Regions from separate parts of the Homo sapiens genome. Here region 2 is linked to region 1. The links come from fine-mapping of genetic effects on gene expression. A gene starts in region 1. The other region holds a variant in brackets. All regions are shown on one strand. Distances are from middle to middle. Region 1 holds the start of RAB11FIP3 (RAB11 family interacting protein 3). Region 2 holds the start of LOC107987417 (a long non-coding RNA gene).

What was found. PIP is the estimated chance that this variant, and not a neighbour inherited with it, causes the effect.
Region 2: its variant is fine-mapped to the expression of RAB11FIP3 in whole blood (INTERVAL, PIP above 0.99).

The regions. Positions count from the first base shown.
Region 1 is chr16:419,078-434,308 of GRCh38, forward strand. RAB11FIP3 (RAB11 family interacting protein 3) reads left to right here and starts at 6,572. Exons shown (of 14, transcript NM_014700.4): 1 at 6,572-7,643. The coding sequence starts at 6,930.
Region 2 is chr16:488,226-503,456 of GRCh38, forward strand. It overlaps RAB11FIP3 (RAB11 family interacting protein 3), which reads left to right. Exons shown (of 14, transcript NM_014700.4): 5 at 626-775; 6 at 8,599-8,634; 7 at 14,779-14,872. LOC107987417 (a long non-coding RNA gene) reads right to left here and starts at 5,315. Exons shown (of 3, transcript XR_007064933.1): 1 at 4,344-5,315; 2 at 3,844-4,100; 3 at 3,148-3,757. RefSeq lists enhancers at 4,078-4,699, 6,158-6,736, 6,737-7,314. The variant C/T (reference allele first, on the strand shown) is at 7,771.

The DNA.
Region 1 (15,231 bases):
TTGAGACAGAGTCTTGCTCTGTTGCCCAGGCTGGAGTGCAGTAGCGCCACCTTGGCTCACTGCAACCTCTGCCTTCCAGGTTCAAGTGATTCTCCTGCCTCAGCCTCCCAAGTAGCTGGGACTACAGGCACCCACCACCACACCTGGCTAATTTTTTCTATTTTTAGTAGAGACAGGGTTTCGCTGTGTTAGCCAGGATGGTCTTGATCTCCTGACCTCATGATCCACCCGCCTCGGCCTCCCAAAGTGCTAGGATTACAGGTGTGAGCCACAGCGCCCAGCTGCACCCAGCTAATTTTTGTAGTTTTAGTAGAGATGGGGTTTCACCATATTGGCCAGGCTGGTCTTGATCTCCTGACCTCGTGATCCACCCACCTTGGCCTCCCAAAGTGCTGGGATTACAGGCGTGAGCCACCGCACCCGGCCTATGCTAAGTTTTTAAACGTTTTCTTACTTTAGAGAGGGAGTTTTGCCCCGTTGCCCAGGCTGGAGTGCAGGGCTATTCACAGGCACAATCACAGCTCACTACAGCTTCAAATTACTGGACTCCAGCATTATGCTAAGTGAAATAAGCCAGTCAGAGAAAGAAGACTTCATGGTCTCATTTATATGTGGAATCCAGAAAAACCTCTGGGTCTTAAGAGCTCCTCCCACCTCAGTCTCTTGAGTAGCCGGGACTACAGGTGTGCACCACCACACCTGGCTAATGTTTTTTTGTTTGTTTTTTGAACTCCTGGGCTTAAGTGATCCTCCTGCCTCAGCCTCCCAAAGTGCTGGGATTACAGGCATGACCCACTGTGCCCAGTGGAAATGAATGTTATAGATATAGTCAAAGTTGTACTTCACCCTTTCTCTTCTGTCTGTCCTCTTGAATATAATTCTTTTTTCTTTCTTTCTTTTTTTTTTTTTTTTTGAGACAGAGTCTCGCTCTGTTACCCAGGCTGGAGTGCAATGGTGTGATCTCAGCTCACTGCAACCTCCGTCTCCGGGGTTCTAGCAATTCTCCTGCCTCAGCCTCCCCAGTAGCTGGGATTACAGGCATGCGCCACCATGCCTGGCTAATTTTTTGTATTTTTGTAGAGACAGGTTTCAGTATTTTGGCCAGGCTGGTCTTGAACTCCTGACCTCAAGTGATCCACCCCATTGGCCTCCCAAAGTTGGGATTACAGGTGTGAGCCACCGCACACGGCCTCAATGTAATTCTCAAGTATGTTTAGGTATTTTTTACTACAAACGAAAGCATTTGAAAACAAGATAGGTCATTGATCATGTGTTTTTAAACTTAACAAAAATTGGCTAGGCACGTTGGCTCACGCCTGTAATCCTAGCACTTTGGGAAGCCAAGGCGGGCAGATCACCTGAGGTCAGGAGTTCCAGATCAGCCTGGCCGAGATGGTGCAACCCCGTCTCTACGAAAAATACAAAAATTAGCTGGGTGTGGTGGCGGGCACCTGTAATCCCAGCTACTCGGGAGGCTGAGGCAGGAGAATCGCTTGAACCCAGGAGATGGAGGCTGCCGTGAGCTGAGACCGTGCCACTGCACTCCGGCCTGGGCAACAAGAACAGAATTCTGTCTAAAAAAATAAATGAAAAATGGTATTACATAGCATGTACTATCAATTGTGCAGATGTGGTGCACTCACTTAAACTGCTACACTTCACAACAGACAACAGGCTCCACTGAAGCCGTTCGGCTCTTCTTCCAGAGAAGTACAAATCCCCGAAGGAAACAAGGTCTTTCCATCTCCCTGCGGACATGTGCAGTTTCTCCGGCAGGTACTGGAAGGCGGATCCCACACTGGAGTATTCCGACCTTCAGCTGCACGACTGGTGCCAAATCCCCACTCCCTGGTGTCCCCAGACTTACTCTGATTGGTGTCAAGGGCTACACTCACACATTTTCCTGGTGACCAGTGAAGATGAGCATCTTTTTCATGTGTTTACCGGCCACCTGAATTTCCTCTTCTGGAGCTGCTTATTCATATTCTTTCCTCGTTTTTCTATCGGGTTGCTGTTCGTTTACTGTTTTTTGAGAAATTCTTTTGTGTATTCTAGAAATGAATATTTTGTCCATTAAATCCATTCTAACTCTCTCTTCCCAGTTGCTACCCCAAAATTTATATATTGGAGTCCTAACGCCAACGGGATGGTATTTGGAGATGAGGTCTTTGGGAGGTATAACTTAGGGTTAGGGCCGGGCGCGGTGGCTCACGCCTGTAATCCCAGCACTTTGGGATGCCGAGGCGGGTGGATCATGAGCTCAGGAGATCGAGACCATCCTGGTTAACACGGTGAAACCCCGGCTCTAGTAAAAATACAAAACAATTAGCCAGGCATGGTGGCGGGTGCCTGTGGTCCCAGCTACTGGGGAGGCTGAGGCAGGAGAATGGCATGAATCCGGGAGGCAGAGATTGCAGTGAGCTGAGATGGCGCCATTGCACTTCAGCCTGGACGACAGAGCAAGACTCCGTCTCAAAAAAAAATAATAATAATAATAATTAGGGTTAGATACGGTCAGCAAGGTGGGGCCCTCACGATGGGAACAGTGCCCTTATTAGAAGAGACAGTCTTTTTTTTTCTTTTTTCTTTTTTTGAGACGGAGTTTCACTCTTGCTGCCCAGGCTGGAGTGCCATGGCACAATCTCGATTCACTGCAACCTCCGCCTCCCAGGTTCTAGTGATTCTCCTGCCTCAGCCTCCCAAGTAGCTGGGATTACAGGCATGCACCACCATGCCTGGCTAATTTTTTGTATTTTTAGTAGAGATGGGGTTTCACCATGGCAAGCCTGGTCTTGAACTCCTGACCTCAGGTAATCCACCCGCATCGGTCTCCCAGAGTGCTGGGATTACAGGCGTGAGGCACCGTGCCCAGCCTTATTTTTATTTTATTGTTTTCCTTGAGATGGAGTTTCCCTCTTGTTGCCCAGGCTGGAGTGCAATGGTGGGATCTTGGCTCACTGCAACCTCCACCTCCCGGGTTCAAGTATTCTCCTGCCTCAGCCTCCCAGGTAGCTGGGATTACAGGACACGCCACCACGCTCAGCTAGTTTTTGTATTTTTAGTAGAGACAGGGTTTTACCATGTTGGCCAGGCTAGTCTCGAACTCCTGACCTCAGGTTATCCACCCGCCTTGGCCTCCTAAAGTGTTGGGATTACAGGCGTGAGCCATTACGCCCGCCTTTTTTTTTTTTTTGAGATAGTCTCGCTCTGTTGCCCAGGCTGGAGTGTAGTGGCTGGATCTCAGCTCATTGCAACCTCTGCCTCCCAGGCTCAAGTGATTACCCTGTTCAGCCTCCTGAGTAGCTGGGATTACACGCACCCGCCACCGCCCCCGGATAATTTTTTTTCTTTTTTTTTGAGACAGAGTCTCACTCCATCACCCAGGCTGCAGTACAGTGGTGTGATCTTGACTCACTGCAACCTCCACCTCCCGGGTTCAAGCAATTCTTTGCCTCAGCCTCCTGAGTAGCTGGGATTACAGGTGCCCGCCACCACGGCCGGCTAATATATACATATATTTTTTAGGTGGAGTCTCGCTCTGTCGCCAGGCTGGAGTGCAGTGGTGCGATCTTCGCTCACTGCAACCTCTGCCTCCCAGGTTCAAGCGATTCTCCTCCCTCAGGCTCCCGAGTAGCTGGGACTACAGGTGGGTGCCACCACACCCGGCTAATTTTTGTATTTTTAGTAGAGACAGGGTTTCACCATGTTTGCCAGGATGTTTTCGATCTCTTGACCTTGTGATCCGCCCACCTTGCCTCCCAAAGTGCTGGGATTATAGGCTGAGCAACCGCGCCCGGCCTAAATTTTCTATTTTTTAGTAGATACGGGGTTTCACCATCTTGGCCAGGCTGGTCTTGAACTCCTGACCTCGTGATCCACCCGCCTCGGCCTCCCAAAGTGCTGGAATTACAGGCATGAGCTCCCACGCCCAGCCCAAAAGAGACAATCTTTCTCCAACATGTGAGGACAGAGTGAGAAGATGGAGGCTATGCTTTGAATGTTTATACCCTCCAAAACGCATGTTGAGGCCAAGTGTGGTGACTCATGCCAATAATCCCAGCACTTTGGGAGGCCGAGGTGGGCGGATCACTTGAGGTCAGGAGTTTGAGACCAGCTTGACCAACATGGTGAAACCCCGGTCTCTACTAAAAATACAAAAAATTAGCCGGCCTTGGTGGCATACGCCTGTAATCCCAGCTACTCAGGAGGCTGAGGTAGGGGAATCACTTGAACCCGGGAGGCGGAGGTTGCAGTGACCAGAGATCGCGCCATTGCACTCCAGCCTGGGCGACAGAGTGAGACTCCATATCAAAAAAAAAAAAAAGATAATAAGGTGCTGCAGATCTGTGGTCTCAGCTACTGGAGAGGCTGAGGTGGGAGGATCTCTCTTCTATTTTTATTTTTTATTTTGGAGACGGAGTCTTGCTCTATCATCCAGGCTGGAGTGCAATGGTGCAATCTTGGCTCGCTGCAAGCTCTGCCTCCCGGGTTCACGCCTTTCTCCTGCCTCAGCCTCCCAAATAGCTGGGACTACAGGTGCCTGCCACCACACCTGGCTAATTTTTGTTTTTTTGTATTTTTAGTAGAGACGGGGTTTCACCGTGTTAGCCAGGATGGTCTCCATTTTCTGACCTCGTGATCCGCCCGCCTCAGCCTCCCACAGTCCTGGGATTACAGGCATGAGCTACCACACCTGGCCTAAGGTGGGAGGATCTCTTGAGCCTAGGAGGTTGAGGCTGCCGTGAGCTATGGTCGCACCACTGCACTGCAGCCTGGGCAACAGAGCAAAACCCTGTCTCGGGGAAAAAAAAGAAAAGAAAAGAAAAGAAGGAACTGCTACAGCCCACAGCCTACAAAGGGGACACAGATAGTAGCTCTGAACAGCAGACGGATAGACGGGAACTTGTCCCTTTAGTCTTTCATGAACAGCCTCTAACTGGTCCAGGCAGGGAGGTGCAGGCTTCCAGGCTGTGGTTCCATGGAGGACACCAGCCGGGCACGCAATGGACGTTTTCCAGCCCTAGCACAGACAGAGCGTGCGGGCCCCTGCTCTCAGAAAGCCAGCCTTCTGCCTCTGGCAGCGCCGGCACATAAAAGCAGAGGGAGCCTGCTGTCTCTGCCTCGCCCACACTAACACCCCTATTTAGAAAGGTTGACACATCACTATCACTGCTTCTGAAAATTTTATCCGGCCGAAGGCATCAGCCCAAATTTGAATTCTTGCCAAAGCTGCTGGTGATTTCGTTCTTTGAATGCAGTATCTTCCTCATGAACACGTACAGCTCTTACAAGAAAATGAGAATACGGTTTGGGGAGGAGGATCCCTCACATTCCTTTTCCTAATGCCAGCCTCGCGAAGTCTGGTCCCATGTACCCTGGGATTCTGCCACGGAAGATGACTCACTTAATTAACACGCTGCTCCTGACCGTACACTTGGAAGCAGAGGTTCCGTTCCTTTGGTTCTTGCCAAAGCTGCTTACGAAACCATATCTTGTGTTGGTGCCCATGGTGTGTAAAAATACAAGTTCATCATTTCCCTGATACAAATTATGACAGGCTAAATTTAGTGCCTCACCTGTCCTAACTAGCTTTCCCACCATCATGCCTGCCGCCGGGCTGTGGTCCTTTCTGAGGTCCCGTGTCCCTCTGAGGACAGGGACACCCAGACACAGAGGTCAGTTGTCAGACGCGGCCACGGTGCTCGGGAGGCTGGCTGCAGACGGGCGATTCACCCTGGGTGTCTTCTTGAGTCTTATTTTTTGTAGAGACGAGGTCTCGCTTTGGTGCTCAGGCTGGTCTCAATCTCCTGGGCGCAAGCGATCCTCCCGCTTGGGCGTGGGCCAGCGCGCCCGTCCCAACGCTGGGAGTCCCGGAGATCTTGGTCACAGGCTTAAGGGAAAGGCCTAGCGCGTGGCCGCGCGTGCCTCTGGTTTCAAGGGACATGGACTGCGTGTCTGGGGCCCCTCCGCACTCCGTGTCAGACCCTGCGTCCCCCGGGTCCGCGCGGGACCCGGGCAGGGCGTCGCCCTCTGCGGCGTCTGCGCCCCGCGAACCCTGGGGCACCTGCAACCCCTGGGCCGCGGAGCCAGGCGTGCGCCGCCTCCTGGTCTCATCAACGTGAGAACGCTTTACCCCCGAAGAGCTCAGCTCCTAGGGGGCTATGTCCCTTTGCGTCTCTCGCTCGCCAGGCGGTGCCGTTTACTCGACCGCACCATGCGTGGGTAGCGGTCGCGCCCGCTGGTAGCTGTGCGGCGGGAACACGTTCTAAGTAAGGCCTGACTCCGCGCGCCTCTTGCCAGGGACGTCACGTCACGCCTCCACTCGCAGCCTCGGAGCACCCCCGCGTCCCGCGCCCGAAGCTCGGGACCCCCGCTCTGGCGAAACGAGGAATATGACATACAGCAAAACACCCCTTCGCGGCCGCTGCACTGCCGCGACACACCCGGCGCCTGCCTCTACAGCAAGCCGGCGAGGGGCTGGGACCCCGCCGGGACGTGCTGACGTCAGGCCCGACGGGGGGCGGGGCCTGGGCGGCGGCGGCGTTAGTTCTCCGGGTACCTCAGGCGCCTCAGCCTCCTTAGTCTCCTCATCCTGCTTCACAGGCTCCGCGGCCTCCGGCCTCCTCGGCCCCCGTCCCCCGGCCTCCTCGGCCCCCGTCCCCCGCCATCCGCCGCCCGGATCCTCGCCGCCCTCCCTAGGCCGCCCCGCCGCCATGGGCCTGCGCCCGCCGCGCCGCCGGGCCGAGGGCAGCTGAGGCGCGGTGCGAAGATGGGCGAGGACAGAGCAGGGCCCGAGCGCCAGCCCCAGCAGCCCGGGCGCCCCGCGCGCGCCCGCCCGCGCCGCCGAGGGGATGCCCGCGCCCGCCGCCGCGCCCTGAGCGCCTTTGTCTGCCGCCCGCGCCCTTCCGCACCACTAGCCTCTCGGGAGCATGGCGTCGGCCCCGCCGGCCTCGCCCCCGGGCTCGGAGCCGCCGGGGCCCGACCCGGAGCCGGGCGGGCCGGACGGGCCGGGGGCGGCACAACTGGCTCCGGGCCCTGCGGAGCTACGCCTCGGAGCGCCCGTCGGCGGCCCCGACCCGCAGTCCCCGGGCCTGGATGAGCCTGCGCCCGGGGCCGCTGCAGATGGCGGGGCGCGTTGGAGCGCCGGGCCGGCCCCGGGGCTGGAGGGAGGCCCGCGAGACCCCGGGCCGTCCGCCCCGCCGCCGCGCTCCGGCCCGCGGGGGCAGCTTGCGAGCCCCGACGCCCCGGGCCCAGGGCCGCGCTCCGAAGCGCCGCTTCCAGAACTCGACCCGTTGTTCTCCTGGACTGAGGAGCCCGAGGAGTGTGGCCCCGCGAGCTGCCCGGAGAGCGCGCCTTTCCGCTTGCAGGGGTCCAGCAGCAGCCACCGAGCGCGGGGCGAGGTCGACGTCTTCTCTCCCTTCCCCGCGCCCACGGCGGGCGAGCTGGCGCTGGAGCAAGGTCCCGGGTCCCCGCCGCAGCCCTCGGACCTCAGCCAGACCCACCCCCTTCCGAGCGAGCCCGTGGGGAGTCAGGAGGACGGCCCCCGCCTCCGAGCCGTGTTCGATGCCCTGGACGGGGATGGGGACGGTTTCGTCCGCATCGAGGACTTCATCCAGTTTGCTACGGTCTACGGGGCAGAGCAGGTACGGAGCGGCCCGGGCCGGGGCGTGGGAACTGGGCAGGTGCGCGCTGGCCGGCGGGGTTGATGTGGGACCGGTCGACGCTGCCCCTGGAGTCGGGAAAGGCACTGTCAAGACCTGACGGTCCTGCTTTTTCTGCTTATTCACCACTTCGGCCCTGGATTTCTGGTTGAATTGCGCTGGAGTCCCTCTTCCCTTCTTAAAAGGAGGTTCTATTCTGGGGAGTCAGTTTCTTCCCCTCCCCCCAGCGCCTCGTCAGCTGGATCTTACCGAGGTCAGCTCCTCGCCTGGGGACACCCCCCCAGGGGGCCTGATCGCCACCCCCCCAGGGTGCCTGATCGACGTGCCCCTGAATGAAGAAGTTCCCCGCGATTCCCCCACCCGAGGGCCCAGATACTGCTCGGCTGAATTCACCCAAGTTCTAGCCGCAGAGGCCAGGCTGCCCAGACGCCTTGAGATCCTACTGATAGACACCTATTTTGAGTACAATTACTTTACTGTGTGTGGTTGACATCTTTTCTACTTAGATTTCATCTTTTATTTGGGAGACAGTCAATGCTTGTAGAGAGTCCTGGAATTAAGAATTTTTACTTTGGTGCCTTTGGGGAGGAAGGCAATGAGCCTCGGAGCTTGTTGGCAAATGCAGAAGTCTAGCAGAACTCCGTTAGGGCCACGTCCACTCTCGTAGGAGAGGTGAAATGCGTGGACAGGCACTACGCACAGTACAGTGTGGAAGGGGTCCACGCGGTCCTCAGGGCACCTGCTCCTGGGGGAAAGGTGGGCCCCAAGATGCAGTTGTTCCTGTCTACCTCAGCACTTAATAAAGTTTAAGTGGAGATAACAGCAGGGCCGTGTGTGTTCTGCCAATAACCCGGTGGACATCAAATAATACCAGTGCTCACTTTTAAATATTTTACTTAGCAGGAAATCCCTAAGGTGCATCTGTCAATTTTTTGTATTTTGACTTCTCACACATGCAGACATCTGGTAAGTGGGTGTTCAAGTACATATGCATGTTTAAGCCAAGAGGTCTGTAAGAAAAGAGGTAAAATTGGCACACTGCTATTTAGGGTGTCAGTCATAACATTAAGAACCTTGATGGTCGGGCGCGGTGGCTCATGCCTGTAATCCCAGCACTTTAGGAGGCCGAGGCGGGCGGATCACGAGGTCAGGAGATTGAGACCATCCTGGCTAATATGGTGAAACCCCGTCTCCACTAAAAAATACAAAAAAATTAGTCGGGCGTGGTGGCGGGCACCTGTACTCCTAGCTACTCGGGAGGCTGAGGCAGGAGAATGGCGTGAACCCGGGAGGCGGAGCTTGCAGTGAGCGGAGATCGCGCCACTGCACTCCAGCCTGGGCGACAGAGCGAGACTTCGTCTCAAAAAAAAAAAACAGCAACAAAACAAAAAACACAGGGTCCTGATAAATCAGGGTTCCTTGCTGAGTTCACATTAAGAAGATGTGCAGACAGGTGCGTGCGGGGCAGCCTGCAATGCTCGCAAGCTTAGCTCCGGTTGGGATATTGTCAGGGTAGTTTTCCACCTACACTAATGGGCAGTGAAATATGTGACTGATACTTTCCTGTATGGTCAGCGTGGATGGTGGTTGCTGGTCCAGGTGTTTTGCTGCGTTTCCTTCTTGCCCCTGGGCTGGAGAGCACCTTGAGCTCCCTTGGTTGCTGTTGGCTACTGCGCTGTCTCTTCTCCCAAACATACTCTTGCTTCAGTACAGCAAAGAAGTTAGGAGAGTACCACATTTGCTCCTTGTTACCATAACCCAACTCTTGATAGAGAACTTCTGTGAGGCTCAGGATGTTTCCACTGGATCATACCACAGTTCTCTGAGATAGTAGGTAAGCAGGATTCATCCCCACTTTACAGGTAAGAAACTGGAAACCCAGAAAGGTCAGATAGCTCTCCCAAGGTCTCACAGGAGTAGAACTAGGTCTTTTGGCCCTTAGACCTTAGATGCCTCTTCTTAGATGTGGTGGCTCACAATATCCCTATTGTGATAATATCTTACTGACTTTCATACAATTCTTTTTATTTGAGAAACATCTTTTGTCATAACCTCCCTTAATGATCACAATGGGAAAAACTTTGTGTTGCTATTTGGGGCTGAGCTTTCTTGTCATCACAAAGTAGAAATGAGACAAAATTCTTCACTCTGAATTCCAAGAGCTCTTGATGAAATTCGAAGGTTGGGGGCAAGGGCTGGATGACTTGGGATTTGGTGAGGATGGGGAAGTGGAAGGGATCTCCTGTGGTATTACTCCTTGTCTGTTCTTCTAGACGGCTTAGGAAGAAGCAATGTTGGGTGTGATCTGAGTGCCTGGACTTGGGCCGGCTTCCTGGGATGGAGGAGAGCTCTTGATTTCTTAAAGCTAAGTTACTGTTTGGCAACAGATAATTTACAGGGTAAAGAAAGGTTGATTTTCATGTTATGTAACCCTGTAGCCATTGCTCAGTTTTAGCAGTCTTGGTTCATCTGTAAACTCACCACTCACTACCCCCAGATGATTTTTGAAGTGGGTTCCTGACATTATATCATTTCTTCCATAAATGCTTCAGTATATATTTCCAAAAGATACCGATTCTTTTAAAGACATTAATGATTTTTTTAAAAACGCTAGGGAACAGTTCAGATTAACTGGATAACAGCAATAAAGGTCATAAGTTTTTGTACTTTCTACCTTGAGATTTCAAAATATTGAGCACATGAGAGACTCTTAGTCCAGTCACATTACTGTCCTTGATGATAACAACTAGATTATCTTAATTTTTTTTTTTTTTTGAGATGGAGTCTCGCCTGCTCTGTCGCCCAGGCTGGAGTGCAATGGTGTGATCTCGGCTCACTGCAACCTCTGCCTCCCGGGTTCAAGCGATTCTCCTGCTTCAGCCTCCCGAGTAGCTGGGATTACCGGTGCCCGTCACCACACCTGGCTATTTTTTGTATTTTTAGTAGAGACGGTTTTGCCATGTTGGCCAGGCTGGTCTTGAACTCTTGACCTCAGGTGATCCACCCGCCTCGGCCTCCCAAAGTGCTGGGATTACAGGCATGAGCCACTGTGCCCGGCCAAGTATCTTAATTTTTATCAAATTTTCAGAGGTAGCATATTGAGTATCTTCTATGTAATCTGTTTATGAAGGTAGCATTTTAAATTATTTAAATGGATTATCTGAATTTTTAATAGAAGCAGCTCCTGTTTATAATACAGATGGCTTTTGTGTCCCTGTTTCTTTAGCAATGTCATGGTGTGTTTGGATCTAATTACGTCATCTGGTGATAGATCAGGTGTAGTGTAATATAACACAGTGTTGTGTTAGCAGAAATCAGCACATGAAAGGAGCAAGTGGAGCTTTCTGGTTATATTTTTTTGAAACAGGAATTTATAGTCAGATGTGTCCAGGAATTAGGTATGAAGTTGGAATAGGTGATTTTTAAGGCTTCAACCATCTCTGGAGATTGACATGACCCCTTCATACTGAGAGGACTGATGCTTTTGTATTTACTGCCACCTATCATGAAGCAGAGATTGTAAAATAAATTCTAAGAGTGTTGTGAGAAAGGATTACTTTAATTTTGTTTTGTTTTTAAAGATTATAACTGTAATTTACATGTTATTTTTACAGTCACTTAAGCAGTTGCGTTTTAATAGCCACTGATTCTTTTCAGAGAATGTCCTTCAGTAACCTTGGTAGGCATTGTCTGTCTTCAGTACTTGCAGAAATAGGCTGCCGAAGGAAGTGTCGATGCTCAGATCTCCCTACGTTTTTTTATTCCTGCACCGCTAATGGTGGCAGTAGGAAGTTCCTAGGGACATTTGACTGCACCTTTTTGTTCGTTTGTTTTGAGACAGGATCTCACTCTGTCACCCAGTCTGAAGTGCAGTGGCAAGATCTCAGCTCACTGCAACCTCCACCTCCTGGGCTCAAGCAGTCCTCTCATCTTAGCCTCCTGAGTAGCTGGGACTATAGGCAGGCATGACCATGCTCCGCTAATTTAAAAAAATTGGCTGGGTGCAGTGGCTCACGCCTGTAATCCCAGCATTTTGGGAGGCTGAGGCGGGCAGATCATGAGGTCAGGAGACGGTGAAACCCCGTCTCTACTAAAAATACAAACATTTTTAAAAATTATTTTTGTAGAGATGAAGTATAGTATAGTGATACTGCCCAGGCATATTATTGAACTCCCAGGCTCAAGCGACCGTCCTCGGGCCTCAGCCTCTCAAAGTTCTGGGATTGCAGGCATGAGCCGTAGCGCCCAGCCTGGCATCGCCTTTTATTTGCCCTGTATCATTTCCAGTCTCTTAGCCTTGAATTTGAGTGAAAGTGTGTGTGAATGAGAGTGAGCATGTGTGTGTGTGAGCAGTTACATATGTGAGCTGGTGTGTGTGTGTGTAATATGTGTGTGCGGTGAGATGTGTGGGAGCATGTGTCTGCAGGATCAGGGATGTGTGTATGTGGGAGTGGGATATTTGTGTGTAAGTGGCATATTATGTATGTGTGTGAGCAGGTGAGTGTATGTATTCTGGGTCTACATGCTGACTGAATTGCTGAAAGGCAAATGAAGCTTGGGTTGTATAAAACAGAAAATGACCAATAATCCCACTATCCTGAGAAAAATAACATTCCCATTATTTTACTACATTTCTTTTCAGACTTTTTTTTTTTTTTTGAAATAGAGTCTTGCTCTCTTGCCCATGCTGGAGTGCAGTGGCACAATCTCAGTTCACTGCAACCTCCACCACGTGGGTTCAAGCGATTGTCTTGCCTGAGTCTCCTGAGTAGCTTGGACTACAGGCGTGCAACGCCTGGCTAATTTTTATATTTTTAGTAGAGACGGGGTTTCGCCGTGTTGACTAGGCTGGTCTCGAACACCAGACCTCAAGTGATCCACCTGCCTCAGCCTCCCAAAGTGTTGGGATTACAGATGTGAGCCACCGCACCTGGCCCAGACCTTTTTTAACACAGACATAGACACACAGGTGACTGTCTATAAAAGTACACAATTGAGATCATATTGGGGTAGAAGCTAAATTTTTTTTTTTTTTTGAGATGGAGTCTCGCTCTGTCACCCAGGCTGGAGTGCAGTGGCGTGATCTTGGCTCGCTGCAAGCTCCGCCTCCCGGGTTTATGCCATTCTCCTGCCTCAGCCTCCTGAGTAGCTGGGACTACAGGCGCCCGCCACCCCTCCCGGCTAATTTTTTTGTATTTTTATTAGAGATGAGGTTTCACCGTGTTAGCCAGTATGGTCTTGATCTCCTGACCGCATGATCCGCCCACCTCGGCCTCCCAAAGTGCTGGGATGATAGGCATGAGCTATGGCGCCCAGTGAAGCTAAATTATTTTTATAGATGTTCATTGTTTTAAAAGAAACTGGCCTGGCGCGGTAACTCACACCTGTCATCCCAACACTTTGGGAGGCCAAGGCGGGTGGATCATCTGAGATCAGGAGACCAGCCTGGCCAACATGGTGAAACCCCATCTCTACTAAAAATACAAAAATTAGCTGGGTGTGGTGGTAGGCGCCTATAATCCCAGGTACTTCAGAGGTCGAGGCAGGAGAATCGCTTGAACCTGGGAGGCAGAGGTTGCAGTGAGCTGAGATCTTGCCATTGCACTCCAGCCTGGACGACAAGGGTGAAACTGTCTCGAAAAACTAAAAAGAAACTAAAACTAGTAGGTAAAATACTAGTAGATAAAATAAGAAAAATAAGGAGCCCTTGTAATCCCCCCATCCATTAATATCATTAAGAGATAATTAAATATTTAATATGTAAATTAAAATGTATGTAATACATACTTGATTATAGATAAATGTTATAATTTGCATGCATGTTGCTTTGAATCTGCTTTTTGACCTGGTTTTTTTTTTTTTTTTGTGTGTGTGTGTGTGTGACAGGGTCTCGCTCTGTGGCCCAGGCTGGAGTTCAGTGGTACGATCTCGGCTCAGTGCAGTCTCTGCCTCCCGGGTTCAAGCAATTCTCCTGCCTCAGACTCCCTCAGCCACTTAGCTGGGATTACAGGCGCCTGCCACCACTCCGGCTAAATTTTTGTATTTTTAATAGAGATGGGGTTTTGTCACGTTGGCCAGGCTGGTCTCAAACTCTTGACCTCGTGATCCACCCGCCTTGGCCTCCCAAAGTGCTGGGATTACAGGCATGAGCCATTGCCCCTAGCCTGAGCTGTTTCTTTTTAATTGATAGAAATATTTGTACATATTCATGGGATGGGTACATGTGGTATTTTGTTACAGGCATACACTGTAATGATCAAGTTGGGGTGTCTGTCACCTCCATATTTATCTTTTTTTTTTTTTTTTTTTTTTTGAGACATAGTCTCTGTCTCTTGCCCAGGCTGGAGTGCAGTGGCGCGATCTCAGCTCGCTGCAAGCTCTGCCTCCCGGGTTGATGCCATTCTCCTGCCTCAGCCTCCTGATAGCTGGGATTACAGGTACATGCCAGCATGCCCAGCTAATTTTTGTATTTTTACTAGAGACAGGGTTTCACCATGTTGGCCAGGCTGGTCTCGAACTCCTGACCTGGTGATCCGCCCACCTGGGCCTCCCAAAGTACTGGGATTACAGGCGTGAGCCACCGCTCATTGCATATTTCTAACCATTAACCGTGCTCTTTACCCTCCTGATGCTTCCCAGCCTCTGATATCAATCGCTCTATTCTCTACCTCCATTAGATCCACTTTTCTAGCTCCCACATAAGAGTAAAAACGTGATATTTGTCTTTCTCTGCCTGTCTTACTTGACTTCACATAATGACCTCCATTTCCTTCCACGTTGCTGCAAATGACATGATTTCATTTTTTTACGTGGCCAAATAGTACTCCAGGCCGGATGCGGTGGCTCACGCCTGTAATCTCAGCACTTTGGAAGGCCAAGGCGGGCGGATCACGAGGTCAGGAGATCGAGACCATCCTAGCTAACACGGTGAAACCCTGTCTCTACTAAAAATACAAAAAAAAAAAAAATTAGCTGGGTGTGGTTGCGGGCGCCTGTAGACCCACCTACTTGGGAGGCTGAGGCAGGAGAATGGCGTGAACCTGGGAGGTGGAGCTTGCAGTGAGCCGAGATCGTGCCACTGCACTCCAGTCTGGGTGACAGAGCGAGACTCTGTCTCAAAAAAAAAAAAAAAAAGTACTCCATTGTGTATCTATATTACATTTTCTTTATCCATTCAACTGTTGATGGACACTTAGATTGATTCCATATCTTTGCTATTGAGAACAGTGCTGCAGTAAACATGGGGTGCAGGCATCCCTGTGGTATATGGATTTCCTTTCCTTTGGATAAATCTCAGTAGTGGGATTGCTGGATTGTATAGTAGTTGACCTAAATTTTTTGAAATTGAAGGTCTCTGATATCAGATGTATATTTATTTATTTAAAAATTTCTTTATTTTTTGAGACAGAGTTCACTATTGTTGGCTAGGCTGGAGTGCAATGGCACGATTTTAGGTCACTGCAACCTTCGCCTCCTGGGTTCAAGCAATTCTCCTGCCTCAGCCTCCTTAGTAGCTGGGATTACAAGCATGTGCCACCATGCTCGGCTAATTTTTTGTATTTTTAGTAGA
Region 2 (15,231 bases), 69 kb after region 1:
AAAAATTAGCCGGGCGTGGTGGCGGGCGCCTGTAGTCCCAGCTACTCGGGAGGTGGAGGCAGGAGAATGACGTGAACCCGGGAGGCGGAGCTGGCAGTGAGCCGATATTGCACGACTGCACTCCAGCCTGGGCGATAGAGCCAGACTCTGTCTCAAAAAAAAAGGTAAAGAAACAGATTTATTTATTTATTTTTTTTTTTTGAGACAGGGCCTTGCTCTGTCACCCAGGCTGGAGTGTAGTGGCATCATCACTGCTCACTGCAGCCTTGGCCTCCCAGGCTCAAGCGATCTTCCCACTTCAGCCTCCCGAGTACCTGGGACTACAGTCGTGCGCATCCATGCCTGGGTGATTTAAAAATGTTTTTTGCAGTTGAGGCCTCCCCCTGTTGCCCAGGCTGGTCTCAAACTCCTGAGCTCAAGCCATCTGCTCGCCTTGGCCTCCCAAAGTGCTGGGATTACATGTGTGAGCCACCGCATCCAGCCCACTTTTTTTTTTTTTTTAAACGTGGCTCCCAGGACTCACGTGTGGCTTGTAGCACACCCTATGGAAAGCACCTTCCACACCCTCAGCTCGGGGGTGCCCTGGCCTTCAGTCAGAAGACATCATTTCTGTTTTACTTTGCAGGCCTCACCCCCATGGCCAGTCTGTCATCACGGTGATCGGGGGCGAGGAGCACTTTGAGGACTACGGTGAAGGCAGTGAGGCGGAGCTGTCCCCAGAGACCCTATGCAACGGGCAGCTGGGCTGCAGTGACCCCGCTTTCCTCACGCCCAGGTAATGACGCCTTGTTCCAGCACACCCTCCTCCCTCTTCTTCCCGTGGTTAGTAGTGGGAAGTTTCCCTTTTTGGTTCGTGCATTGGTGAGAGAACTTGCTTTCCTTGACGTCATGTGATTAAGTAAACCATATTCAAACATTTTAAATTTATACCTGGATTTATGAAAGTTGGGAGAAGTCCCTCTTCTCCAGCCACATCCCCAGATCACTCTACATTTCTGAGGCTTCAGCAAAATCCTGTGGCACAGAGCTGTGTTTGCACACTTGGCTTGCGGGCTCCTTTGCTGTGGGCCGTGGATCACATGGTGGTCTGTGCAGGCTTTTGAGGGAGGCCTCATGATCATAAGTGAGTCTTCAGATTCATTTCCTTATAAATATCTGACATCCCCAAACTGGAAAGCTGTGACTCTGAATAAATAGAAGCACAACACGCAGTGGGCGAGATGCCCACTCACAAATGTCCAGAGTCACTCTAGGGAGTCCAGAGTCCTCTTGGCTTGGATCCGAACATGGGGGTCTGGGTACGTACTTCTGAGGGCTAGGGGCTCCCACGTGGGAGTCAGTCCCTCTAGGACGCTCCTGACTTCAGGGAGACCCTGGGCTGGCCGATGGGGTTGTTACTTCAATCCCTTCTCCCCTTTGCTACTAGGTTGTCGTCCATCTTTGCCAGCAGTCAAGGCCGAGCCTCTTTAAGCAGCCACAAGAGTCTTCCCTTGCCTGCTGCCCGCCCGCTGTTACTGAGGCCCAGGGAACCTGGGTGGAGGGCGGTGCAGGAGGGGCTGAGCAGCTCGTCTGCCCATAGGGTCCCCCTCCTTTTGTTTCCCATGTGCCCTCCTTGAAGCCGCCCGTCAGCCCTGGGTGTGGGGACCCTGCACGGATATCCTGTGTGCTCTGGTCCCGGCGAGCGTCCTGGGAGAGCTGTGCATGAGTGAGGCATCACAGACGGTCCTCAGAGGCAGTGTGCTTGTCTTAGGCACTTTCCTCTCCCAGCGCGTGGTGGTGTCAAGACAAGGGCCAGAGGACTGGGGCGTTTCTAAACTTGGGTCTCTGTGCTTGGTAATCACCTCTTCCTACGTGTTTAGTTTGTCCCTGTCTCCTGTTCAGTGTTTTCATTGTTACCTGTTTGAAGTGTAATGTCTATGCTACATTGTATGTTTCACTTTTCACCTTTCTTTACTTGAGCTTCCAAATGGTTTCCCACAGCATGTGGGTCCCAGCGCCCGCGATGAGGCTGCCTTTGCTCCTTTGCCTTCGCGTCGCAGACGCAGCACCCCTGCCAGTGGCCCAGAAGCCCTTGGAGGTGAAGTCACAGGGAGGTTAGCTAGCACCACCACAAAATCTAACACTGAGTTTCGACAGGTCGGTCTTTTTGGGGGTTTTTTGAGACAGGATCTCACTTTATTGCCCAGGCTGGAGTGGTGCAATCATGGCTCACTGCAGCCTCCACCTCCCTCAGCTTCCTGAGTAGCTGGGACTACAGGTATGAGCTACTACGCCGGGCTAATTTTGTATTTTTTGTAGAGACGGGTTCACCATGTTGCCCAGGCTGGTCTCAAACGCCTGAGCTCAAGCGATCCACCCAAAGTGCTGGAATTAGAAGCAGGAGCCACCATGCCCGGCTTTAACGCACATCTTAAAAAATCACAAAACTATTGTAGATTTATCATTCATGCATAGTTTTTGCTAGAGGTGGTTTTTGGAGTAATCATAAATATAGTACAGTAAGTACAAGTTTACCCGGAGACATGGTTCGCTATCACATTGATGTGTTTTTGGCAAAAGAGAAAGCAGTATGGTTTTTTACCTTCTTGTTAAAGAAGGGCTTTTGCTTTGCAAGGAGGCTCTCAGGCTGCCCCTGCTTTCTTCTGGGCACCCGACCCAGAGGAGCAGGTGTGTGCAGGGCCCCCTGAGGCTCGAGCTGGTGCCTGTCCTGGGCTCCTGGAGGCAGCTGAGGGATGTGGGCTCACTGCGGTCTAAAGGCAAGAGCCAGAACATTGCACAGCTCATTCTCTCTCCACGTGCTTTTGTTCCACACCATGTCCTGTCCTGTTCCCCTCGGCCCCTCGTGCGGAGTCACAGATGACCACACGGGTCCTCATCCTCTCCTGAACGGATGCTTCTGTCTCTCTAGCACTGACCCTCTTGCCGCAAAGCTGCACAGCATCCTCACTGATGAGGCGTTTGAGTTTTACTGTAGCCAGTGCCACAAACAAATCAACCGCCTTGAGGATCTTTCTGCCCGCCTGAGTGATCTTGAAATGAATAGGTAACTGACCAGCGCCTGGCCTTGCTGTCTGTTCCCAGGGTGTGGGGGACTCCGGATACCCACAGCCCCCTTGAGGGCCTGCCCCGAGGCGACCAGGAGCCTCTCAGGCAGCGGGACTCTCCCTGGGGCCCCGCCTCCCACCCTGCACGCTGTGGGGCCACCAGGGCCCTGCCTCCTCCCCTGCATGCGCAGCCCAGGCCAGTGCTTGTCTTGGTGGGAGGAAGTGATCGGTCTTTGCAAGCTGTGCTGTCTGTCCTGTGTGTGAAAGAGGATACTTTCTGCATTTTACTAAAAGATTTCTTTCATTGAGCTCATGAGACAGAATTGGGAAAGTTAAAGATTTAGTCTTTAAGAACAGATATGTAAACAGCTTTCAGGATTGTCAGTTTAAATGGAGTTTTGAATACTCACAGTGAGCGTGTGAGGGAGCTCACTGTGTCTCAGCAGGGGAGCTCTTGTGGCTGGCCCTCATGTCTAACTCCCAGTTACAGAAGACGGTTTTGAGTGCTTTGCACATATTGACGTGCCCGTTGGGCATCGTGTTGATTTCGCTTGCGGTGAAGCCCCTGGGTGGGCAGCTCTCCAGAAGGGTCTGGTGAAGAAACGGGCCACTTTGGAGCTTTCCACAGCAGCCCTAGCCTAGCAGAAGAGGTGAGTGAGCATACAGGCTCATGCTGGCAATCTGGGACGGCTTCCTGAAGAACGGGACCTGGCCTGTGGGGAGGGTTTGTAAAGGTGGCAGAAAGGTGAGTTATCCTGACGGTTCTAGCATGTTTAGAGGTATCTGTGAAACTGCTTACCTGTCTTGAGCCTGCCCTGTCCCTGCCCCAGGGGGCTTCTGCCGAGGCACATCCTTGCTGGCGGGCGCTCACTGCCCACGGCCTTATTGAGGCTTCTGTCCTGCCTCTAGTTCCATTTCCAGGGCACTTAACTCTTCTTATGTTCTGTGAAATGCTGTGAAGCACAGGGCCCCCAGCCAGTGCCCATTCAGGTGGAGAGGATGGGGGTGGGGCCCGGCACTGATGGCCATTCTGGAGCATCGGGGGTCTTGGCAGCACTGGTGAGAAAGCAGAAGTGCTCTTTGAAGAGGGTCTTCCCGGGAGACCCGAGGCCGCCCAGAGCCCTCCCCGGGAGACCCGAGGCCGCCCAGGGCCCTCCCCGGGAGACCCGAGGCCGCCCAGGGCCCTTCCCGGGGAGACCCGAGGCCGCCCAGGGCCCTCCCGGGAGACCCGAGGCCGCCCAGGGCCCTCCCGGGAGACCCGAGGCCGTCCAGAATCTTGGATTCCAAAGATCCGCTAACCTCTGTTTTAGGGGAAATCAGTTTCTGCCTGCGTGTGTGTTCAGCTAGGGGTTCAAGGCCCGGCGACGATGGCTCAGCCTGCTTGGGGAGGGGCCATTTGTTCTTCCCACGCAGAGACTTGCCCTCCCACTCACCGATAAGTTGAGTGCAAGCATGTCATCTCCGTACATGAAAGTAAGCCTGAAGACTCAGGTCTCGTCTCTCATTTTCTGAAGATTTTTGACATAGAACTGATTTTTTCCCACATTGAGAACTAGCTCCAAGATGGCCATGGTCGCCTCTGCTGGGCTTTGTGGGGGCAGAGAAGGGACTAGGATGTAGCTAAGTACAACTAGCAAGTCCTGTGGAGCCTCACGTCCAGGTTCTGCTACCCCTTTTCCTAAGACTCTATGAAGCGGGCCAGGCGCAGTGACTCACGCCTGTAATCTCAGCATTTTGGGAGGCTGAGGAGGCAGGCAGATCACTTGAGGCCAGGAGTTTGAGACCAGCCTGGCCAACATGGCGAAACCCTGTCTCTACTAAAAACATAAAAATTAGCCAGGCATGGTGGCACATGCCTGTAGTTCCAGCTACTTGGGAGGCTGAGATGGGAGGTTCACTTGAACCCAGGAGGTGGAGGCTGTGGTGAGCCAACATCCTGCCACTGCACTCCAGCCTGGGCAACAGAGCCAAACTCTGACTCCAAAAAAAAAAAAAAAAAAAAGACTCTACCAAGTGGTTAATATGCTATTCAATTCAACACAATCAGGACACACAACTGCCAGTCAGAACATCCTCCCCATAACCCTTAGTGGAGGAGATCTGAATCTTGCGTTTTAGTTTCCATGGACTTGCCTGAAAGTAAGCTTATTTGGTCATGCTTTGTGGGTGGCAACAGGTGACTTAGTCCAGACCACCTCTGGAAGCTTTGATGTCAGATACGATGTCCAGTCGCCTCAGAACAGGCCAATAGCTGTTGCATTTTCCAGGTACCCTGCAGCCTCTAAATACATTTCATTTTGTAGGAACTAAGAAGTGTGCCTTACCTGGAGGTATATTTTCTTTTTTCTTTTTTTTGAGACAGAGTCTCGCTTTGTGACCCAGGCCGGAGTGCAGTGGTGCGATCTCGGCTCACTGCAACCTCTGCCTCCCGGGTTCACTCCATTCTCCTGCCTCAGCCTCCCGAGTAGCTGGGACTACAGGCGCCCATCACCACACCTGGCTAACTTTTGTATTTTTAGTAGACACGGGGTTTCACCATGTCTCAATCTCCGGACCTCGTGATCCGCCCGCCTTGACCCCCCAAAGTGCTGGGATTACAGGCTGAGCCACTGCACCCAGCCTGCCTGGAGGTATATTATCTTTTTCTTTTTTGAGACAGAGTCTCGATCTGTCACCCAGGCTGGAGTGCGGTGGTGCGATCTCGGCTCACTGCAACCTCTGCCTCCCGGGTTCACTCCATTCTCCTGCCTCAGCCTCCCGAGTAGCTGGGACTACAGGCGCCCATCACCACACCTGGCTAACTTTTGTATTTTTAGTAGACACAGGGTTTCACCATGTCTCAATCTCCGGACCTCGTGATCCGCCCGCCTCGGCCTCCCAAAGTGCTGGGATTACAGGTGTGAGCCACCGCACCTGGCCACCTGGAGGTGTATTTTCAATTATAAATCCTGTTGCTGGGCTGCCAGTCCAGGCCCTGAAAGGTCAGTAGGTAAACTGAACGATGAGTCTGTCCTGTCCTATTAGTTCTAGGGAGTCTCAACAATAATAAGATAAAATTAAATTTGTATTAAGGCTGGGTGCGGTGGCTCATGCCCGTAATCCCAGCACTTTGCGAGGCTGAGGTGGGCAGATCACGAGGTCAGGAGATCGAGACCATCCTGGCTAACACGGTGAAACCCCATCTCTACTAAAAATATAAAAAATTAGCCGGGCGTGGTGGCGGGCGCCTGTAGTCCCAGCTACTCGGGAGGCTGAGGCCGGAGAATGGCGTGAACCCGGGAGGTGGAACTTGCAGTGAGCCGAGATCATGCCACTGCACTCCAGCCTGGGTGACACAGTGAGACTCCATCTTAAAAAAAAAAACCTGTATTAAAATATACATTATTAGTCTCCAGTCGAGAAAGGAGAGCCACACAGTAATTTGAACAGGGACAGTTTAATACTACAAAGAATGGGCTGAGTGTGGGCTGAAATCGCAGTGCTTTGGGAGGCTGAGGTGGGAGGATCACATGAGCCGGGGAGGTCGAGGCTGCAGAGGTGGGAGGATCACATGAGCCTGGGAGGTCGAGGCTGCAGAGGTGGGAGGATCACATGAGCCGGGGAGGTCGAGGCTGCAGAGGTGGGAGGATCACATGAGCCGGGGAGGTCGAGGCTGCTGAGGTGGGAGGATCACATGAGCCGGGGAGGTCGAGGCTGCTGAGGTGGGAGGATCACATGAGCCGGGGAGGTCGAGGCTGCAGAGGTGGGAGGATCACATGAGCCGGGGAGGTCGAGGCTGCAGCGAGCTGTGGTTGCACCACTGCACTTCAGCCTGGGCCACAGAGTCATACCTTGCCTCTAAGAAAAGATAATGCAAACAAACAAACAAAAAATTTAAAAAATCATTAGGGAAAGGAAAAGAATGTCACAGGCTATGGGAGTAATGAGGCACTGGTTGGGATGAGTAAAAAGAACTCTGCAGAGTGTAGGGACAGCAGGCACAGGAGCAGCCGCCACCCAGGGCCGGGGCAGAGCCCCCCAGCTACAGTCACTGCCACCCAGGGCTGAGGTCTGCACCAGCTGCAAACGGCGTGGTGGGGACACCACCGTGCTGTCAGGGCTTGTGGGGAACCTGCCTCCTGGCTGCCAGGAAAGCTATTCTGTTGCAGGACACTTGGCAGAGGCACCCCTAGAGAACAGCTACCCGAATGGGGTCGGGGAAGCCCCTGGCTCTGGCTACAGTGGGCAGGATGCTCCCTGGAGTAGGTACTGGGGAGACTGCAGGTGTCGGAGGGCCCTGCAGAGAGTGGTCAGAACCAGGAGGCAAACCTCTTCCTGCTGTGTTCACTCCTCGGCTCCCTCTGCTGATGACACGCAGCATTGTGGAGGAAGAGCCTGCTAAGGGCCCAGCTCTGTTTCTACAGGGCAAGTAAAAAGGATGGACTTAGAGCTGAGGGGCTCTACGTTAATACCTGGCACAGCAGCTGATTCTCCTCCAGTAGATTTCTTTTTTTCTTTGAGACAGAGTTTCACTCTTTGTTGCCCAGGCTGGAGTGCAGTGGCGTGATCTCGGCTGACTGCAACCTCTGCCTCCCGGGTTCAAGCGAGTCTCCTGTCCCAGCCTCCCGAGTAGCTGGGATTACAGGCATGCGCCACCATTCCCGGTTATTTTTGAATTTTTAGTAGAGACAGGGTTTCTCCACGTTGGCCAGGCTGGTCTCGAACTCCCGACCTCTGGAGATCCACC[C/T]GCCTCAGCCTCCCAAAGTGCTCAGATTGTAGGCATGAGCCACCACGCCCGGCCCCTCCAGTAGACTTTTCTGCCTGACCCTGGAAAGAAAATCAGAGGTGTTTTTGAGACAGGTAAGCTGAAGAGAGACGTGGCTTTGTGAGTTCCAGGACCGTGATGGTTCCCAGGCCCCAGGGGTGAGGGTGTCTTCCTGCAGGCTGAGGCTAATAGTTCAGCAGCTAGACTGTAAAATACAACTTTGGACCTCAGAAATGAGGGAGAAGGTAAGTTTGGCCCATGTGCCACTGCAGATGGTTAAATCAGACAGCTGATGTATAATTGGCTATATTTACTGCCCTGAAATGGCAACGGGAAAGGTTTCCAAACTGATGCCTAGGCAGGCGTTCTGAGCATGATGCATCAGTGCCTGAGTCGAAGCCAGCGGCAAACTCTCCTGTCACAGCGGGGCCTGGGTCACTTTTCACTTGGGGGCCTCCGAAGGCCAAGCGTTTGGGGGTAATTTGGCTTCAGAAGCATTGGGACAGTGCAGCCAGCGGGTGGGACCAGGTGTGGCGCTGGCCTCTCAGTCGTGGTCTGGGGTGGCTGCATCTGGAAGCCTCTTTGGGGGCTGGAGTAACGAGACGTATGCGGCCTCACCCCAGCACTGCCGTGTCCTTGCTGTTTTGCTGAGTGAGCATTTGTGCATGGACTTGCCTGGGGGGCCCTGCATGCCGGGAGCATTGCTGAAAGGCCGCCCACCTCGTATCTCCACAGCCTGAGTTTCCTGCTTCCTCCTGCTCCTCTCTGTCTGTTCTAACAATTTTCCTGTTTATTTTGTTTTCTGCACAGTCCGACAAAGCGGCTCTCCAGCAAGAAGGTGGCAAGGTAGGTGGGTCTCTGGTTCCTGCTGAAAAACGTTCTGAAGTGGATAATTAATCATAGTTTTTTAAAAAACATTTTAAAATGTTCTTTTCCAAGGTATTTTTTAAACTCTTGCAAGTTACTTTACATGGTTTGGGGCTGAAGGTATCCTGAAGGAGTGTTGGGAAAGGGGTTTCCAGGGCTGTGAATTTGGACCTGGATTTGTGACCAGGGAGGGTACGTGTCAGAGCTTTTGGTGCTGGGCCTCTTGTGTGTTCACTAAGGTCTGGAAGGGGCCGCCATCCCCAGATGTCTGCTCTATGTTAGCTCTGAGGTAGCGAGACCCAGTGAGGAGCCTGGCTTCTCAGAGCCGGGTCTGGGCAGCTCCCCAAGGTGAGTCGAAGGTGAGGGATGGGTCTGACTCCAATTCCTAAAGACCATTTCTTCATTTTCCAGCTTCGTATAGATCTGTTGGCTTCCTGCTGTGAAAGATGGCAACATACACTTTTATCTTCCTCCCCTGCCAGTTCTTACCGAAATAAACATGCAGGGTTAAGGCCCTTCCCAGGGAGCCACTCAGTGTGGCTGCCGGGTGGCCTCTGCTGCCGTCAGAGTCTGCCTTTGTGTCTTTATCTGCTTTGCCTTCCTAGTCCCCGTCCTGCTTCGTGGCCCGGCATCTGGCAGGGCTGGGAGACGCCTCTCCAGCTTCCTCTGGAGCATCCCCTCTGGAGCCTCCTCTCTGCCCTGTTGTGCCGGGCGTTCTCCAGGCCTCGTGGCTGTGGTCCTGGACAGGTCTCCCCACACTGGTGGGTTCCTTTGTTTCGGGGGTTGGATCCTCTAGCTCCCTGGCCCCGTCTTCCTTCTCATTTGTTTTCTCTGGTTTTTGTCCAGCGTATCTTCCTGTAGCTTCTTGAGAAAAGAGGTGCTCAGGAGATAAACTTGAGCTTGGGTTGGTTTGTACTGTGAGAGTGGGATCATTTTCCTGTAAGATTTTTGACGGCATTGCTTATCTTCTAGAGCTAAAGTTGTTACCATGAAGTTTAACCTTTCTGACTCGGTTTCTTTGGGACCAGCCTGAGCAACTTAGTGAAACCCTGTCTCTACAAAAAAAAAAAAAAAATTAAAAATTAAAAATTAAAAAAAAAAAAGGAAAATAGGCAAGGTCTAGCTGCGTTGCCCAGGCTGTAGTGCAGTGAGTGGCAATTCATAGGTGCAAGCATAGCTCACAACAGCCCCAGACTCCCTGGGCTTAAGTAATCTTTCCACCTCAGCCTCCCAAAATTCTCGGATTACAGAGGTAAGCCACCACACCCAGCCAAGAACAGAAACCTTTTGTTTTCCATTTTCTTTTATTTTGAGACATTGTCTTGCTCTGTCACCTGGGCTGAAGTACCGTGGTGCAATCACAGCTCACTGCAGCCTGGACCTCTCAGGCTCACTCCATCCTCCCACCTCCTCCTCCTGAGGACCTGGGACTACAGGTGCGCATTGCCAATGCCTGGCTAGTCTTTTAATTTTTAATAGAGATGGAGTTTCACTACGTTGCCCAGACTGATCTTGAGCTCCTGGGCTGAAGGGATCCTCCCACCTTGGCCTCCCAAAGTACTGGGATCACAGGCATGAGCCGTCACACCTGGCCATGGATGAAAACTTTTTTCTTTTTGTTTCTCTTCTCTTTTCTTGGCTTTCTTTTCTTTTTGAGACAGTCTTGCTCTGTCTTGCTCTGTGAAGTGACATCATCACAGCTCTCAATAGTTTTCACTTCCCAGACCTCCCAAGCTCAAATGATCCTCCCTCCTCAGCCTCCCGAGCAGCTGAGACCACAGGCGCATGCCACCATACCCAGATGATTTTTTAATTTTTTGTAGAGACAGGCCCAGACTGGTCTTGAACTCCTGGGCTCTAGCAGTCCTCCCACCTCGGTCTCCCAGAATGTTGGAATTACAGGCAGGAGCCACCGCGTCCCACTTGTTTTCCATTTTCTGTCATTTTAGGGGCTAGGGGCTAGGGGCTAGAGGAAGCAGAGGTGAACGTCATCATGCATCTTTTTCTAACTGTCTTCTTGCTCACCCCTTTCAGAAAAGCATTGAGCTGGCCGGGCGTAGTAGGTCACGCCTGTAATCCCAGCACTTTGGGAGGCTGAGGTGGGTGGATCACCTGAGGTTGGGAGTTCAAGACCAGCCTGGCCAAAATGGAGAAACCCCATCTCTACTAAAAAAATACAAGATTAGCCAGGTGTGTTAGCAGGTGCCTGTAATCCCAGCTACTCAGGAGACTGAGGCAGGAGAATCACCTGAACCCTGGAGGCGGAGCTTGGAGTGAGCCGAGATTGTGCCATTGTACTCCAGCCTGGGCAACAAGAGCGAGACTCCATCTCAAAAAAAGAAAGAAAAAGAGAAGCATTGAGCTCTTAGGAACGTGACGTGCATCCCCAGCTACACTTCTGTTACCACTTCAGCATCACCTTCCTCCCCGCTTCATCAAGTCTTTTACTCCAGACAGGCTGCAGCTGGTGACATGAAAGACCGGTCAAGGCCAGCTAAGGCATCTGCTTGAGGCCTCCCGTGCCTAGGATGGGGCGCAGCCTGCAGTTGGCTGTCACAGCCTTGTGTCAGAAACACCCTTTAAAATTTAATGTTTCCTTCACGGGTACCCTTTGGCATAAAAAAAGCCCAATCTGAGCCGGACGCAGTGGCTCACGCCTGTAATCCCAGCACATTGGGAAGCCAAGGTGGGTGGATCACGAGGTCAGGAGTTCAAGAACAGCCTGACCAACATGGTGAAACCCCGTCTCTACTAAAAATACAAAAATTAGTTAGGCATGGTGGCACACATGCCTGTAATCCCAGCTACTCAGGAGCCTGAGGTAGGAGAACTGCTTGAACCCAGAAGGCAGAGGTTACAGTGAGCCCAGATCACGCCACTGCACTCTAGCCTGGGCGACAGAGCAAGACTGTCTCAAAAAAAAAAAAAAAAAAAAAAGCTCCATCTGCAGTTATCTGTCGTTAGAGTTTACAAAACAGAGACCTCTTCTGCAGTGTGTCTATCCACATGTAAATATATGTACACAAGATTTAATCTGTTGTTTTGCCCCAAATCTGCCACAAGAGGCTAAGGAAGAGCAAAATAAACGTCGCGATTCGCTTCTCACAGTTCTCAGCCCTTCGCGCTGAACTATTGCTGAGATGGTGGGTTTTGCCAGCAGCCATTGTAGCCCCCGGGCCTGGCTGCATTGCTCACCTCCCTCAGCCTTGTTCTGTCCCTGTCCATGAGATGGAAGTGGCTTTCTCCAGTCAGCTGTGTGTGCAGAGACCGGGGGCTCCGGGCAGAGCCGAGTCCATCAGGACTGGAGGAAGTGCTCACAGCAGGCAGGCTCCCTGGGCCCTGGGTGGGAGGCCTCAGGGATCCCCGTACCTCCTTGCTCACCAGCCAGGCTCGACCTACTGCCCTGTGGGGCAGGTCAGGCTTTTTCCACAGCTCCCTCTCTGGGAGGAGGGTCCTTCCAAGTGAGGGTGTGGTGTAGCTGGAGAATCCCTCTTTCTAGGGGATTTAAATAAGCAGCCCCAGCCGGACGCGGTGGTTCACGCCTGTACTCCCAGCACTTTGGGGGGCCGAGGCGCACAGATCACGAGGTCAGGAGTTTGAGACCAGCCTGGCCAACATAGTGAAACCCCATCTCTACTAAAAAAAACAATACAAAAAGTTAGCTGGGCATGGTGGCAGGTGCCTGTAATCCCAGCTACCTGGGAGGCTGAGGCAGGAGAATGGCTTGAACCCGGAAGGCAGAGGTTGCAGTGAGCTGAGATTGCACCACTGCACTCCAGCCCAGGTGACAGTGCAAGACTCTGTCGCAAAAAAAAAAAAAAAAAAAAAAAAAAAAATTAAATAAGTAAATAAATAAGCAGCCGCATGACCCATGCTGAGGACCCTCTGCCTCACGTTGGTGGCCACGTGTGGTGGCTGCACGCTGGGTGCCTGGGGATGGCTGTGTCCCCGAGTCAGCCCCAGAAGTGCCTACGCCTCTAGGACAGCTCAGAAGTGCTGACAGGTCGTGGCCTCTCAGGATGGGCTCTGGGTTGCAGCTTCATGCCTGGAGTGGCTCATGTTTGGGGGCAAGGTCATGGGCGTTTAAGAGCAGCGACTGGCCAAGAACATGATCTGTATCAGCAGCAGCTTTTGAGAATCTGATGAAATCCCCAGAGCCCCAGAAGGGCACCGGTGTGTTCCAGCTGGTGCACGTTCACAGGGCTTGTCTCCTCAGAGCGTTTATGGGGAAAAAGATGGAAATGTTCAAGCCCAGTCCGTACTGAGAAGCAAATCGAACTTCATACACTTGGTAGACATTTTCAGTGGAAAAATATTAACATTTTATGGAATTCTTACTCTGCTACGTCCCTAGCCAAGCTGTTTGTATGCATGACCTTGGTTAAACCTCAGTTGCCTCTAGACCCCCATTTCATAGGCAAGGAAGCTGGGAGAGGGTCCCCCCATTTCATAGGCAAGGAAACTCGGAGAGGGTCCCCCCATTTCATAGGCAAGGAAGCTCGGAGAGGGTCTCCCATTTCATAGGCAAGGAAGCTGGGAGAGGGTCCCCCCATTTCATAGGCAAGGAAGCTCGGAGAGGATCCCCCCATTTCATAGGCAAGGAAGCTGGGAGAGGGTCCCCCCATTTCATAGGCAAGGAAGCTCGGAGAGGGTCCCCCATTTCACAGGCAAGGAAGCTGGGAGAGGGTCCCCCATTTCATAGGCAAGGAAGCTGGGAGAGGGTCCCCCCATTTCACAGGCAAGGAAGCTGGGAGAGGGTCCCCCCATTTCACAGACAAGTTCAGAGAGGCTCCCCCCATTTCATAGGCAGGGAAGCTGGGAGAGGGTCCCCCCATTTCACAGACAAGTTCGGAGAAGGTCCCCCATTTCATAGGCAAGGAAGCTGGGAGAGGGTCCCCCCATTTCACAGGCAAGGAAGTTCAGAGAGGGTCCCCCCATTTCACAGACAAGGAAGTTCGGAGAGGATCCCCCATTTCATAGGCAAGGAAGCTGGGAGATGGTCCCCCCATTTTATAGGCAAGGAGTCTGGGAGAGTGTCCCCCCATTTCATAGGCAAGGAGGCTGGGAGAGGGTCCCCCCATTTCATAGGCAAGGAGGCTGGGAGAGGGTCCCCCCATTTCATAGGCAAGGAAGCTCGGAGAGGGCCAGTGCTTTTTAACGGTCACGCAGTTCTGAGCATCAGGCTGTCAGCCTGGAGCCTGGCTTGGTACTGAGGTTCCCAGGATGTATAAAGAACTGAACACGCACCTTTGCTGTTGGCTCTTCTGTGCGAGTGCTCTGAGAGTTTTCTGTACTCCCGGCAAGTTTGGGTTGGTACAGATTCACCACAGCGAATCTGACCACGTGGTGACCACAAGCACGCGCTTACTGCGCGCCTAAGTTCACACTCCCTGGAGAAGCTCCTGCCCCAAGGCCGCAGCCTATGGGCCTTTGCGTCTACTCAGGACCATGAGGCTGTGTCCCCGAGCCTGGCCCGGGTAGTAACTGGCATGGCCTGCGGTGCTGGGGGCGTGTCCACAGGAGCTGGTGCCACAGAGGACACGTGTGTCTGCTGTCTTCCTGGACTCGGTCGGACCAGTTTCCCAGTGTGTCCGTGAGGGTGACACTGAGTGAGACTTCTGGGATCCACACCTTTCCTGGGACCCTCACTCTTCCTGCCACAGAAAGCACCTGTGAAAGTCTGAGATCAAGAATGTGCACAGGGGAGGTGTCTGCAGGTCAAGGTCCTGAGCTGATGTCTCACAGGCCTCTGGTAGAGACGAGATTGTTCGTGTCTCTGCGAAGAAGGGCATGTTTTATTGCAGCCAAGTACAAAGTCCTCTCTGCCACTCGCTGGCTGGGACTGAGGTCATGTTCTGTCAGGTTCCAAAGAGCGCCAGGAAGACTCTGAGACCACAGAGCACGGCCTGCTTTCTCCCAGCCCCTGGTAAAGATGTCCAGCCTGGGACCTCCCCCTGTATATAGTGCTTTAAGTGGGAGAAGACCACCACCCAGATCAGGGGAGGACCTGTCCCCTGCAATGCTGCTGCCTGCTTTTCAGATTGACTTGGGAGTGCTTGTGCTGACGGAGCATGTCCTGTGGTTTTTCCCTTTCTTCCCTCTGTTGTTGTGCCTTTTCTGTAGGTACCTGCACCAGTCAGGGGCCCTGACCATGGAGGCCCTGGAGGACCCTTCCCCCGAGCTCATGGAGGGCCCAGAGGAGGACATTGCTGACAAGGTAGGCCCTGGAGGGCTGGGTAGGTGGCAAGTAGGGGATTTAGAACACAGCCACGCCTAAGGGCCGCTGCAGACACCCCGGGAGGTGGGGACAGCACAGCCGGAGGTGACCCCATGTCCTCCAGGGCTCCCCAGACTGTCCATCCAGCCCCGATGCTCTTTGGCAGGTTTCCCCAAGGGGTCTCGTGGCCATGTGAGAAAAAGGAGTCTTCCTGTTGTGCACGAAGGGCCAGCTGGGAGGAGTGGACTGGGCAGTGAGTGAGCACCCTCGGGTATCCCACCCCCACTGTGTCTGAGTCGGGCTGGGGGACACCCAGACATTCAGTCCACCAGGCCCATGGAGACGCGACCTGGGGCACC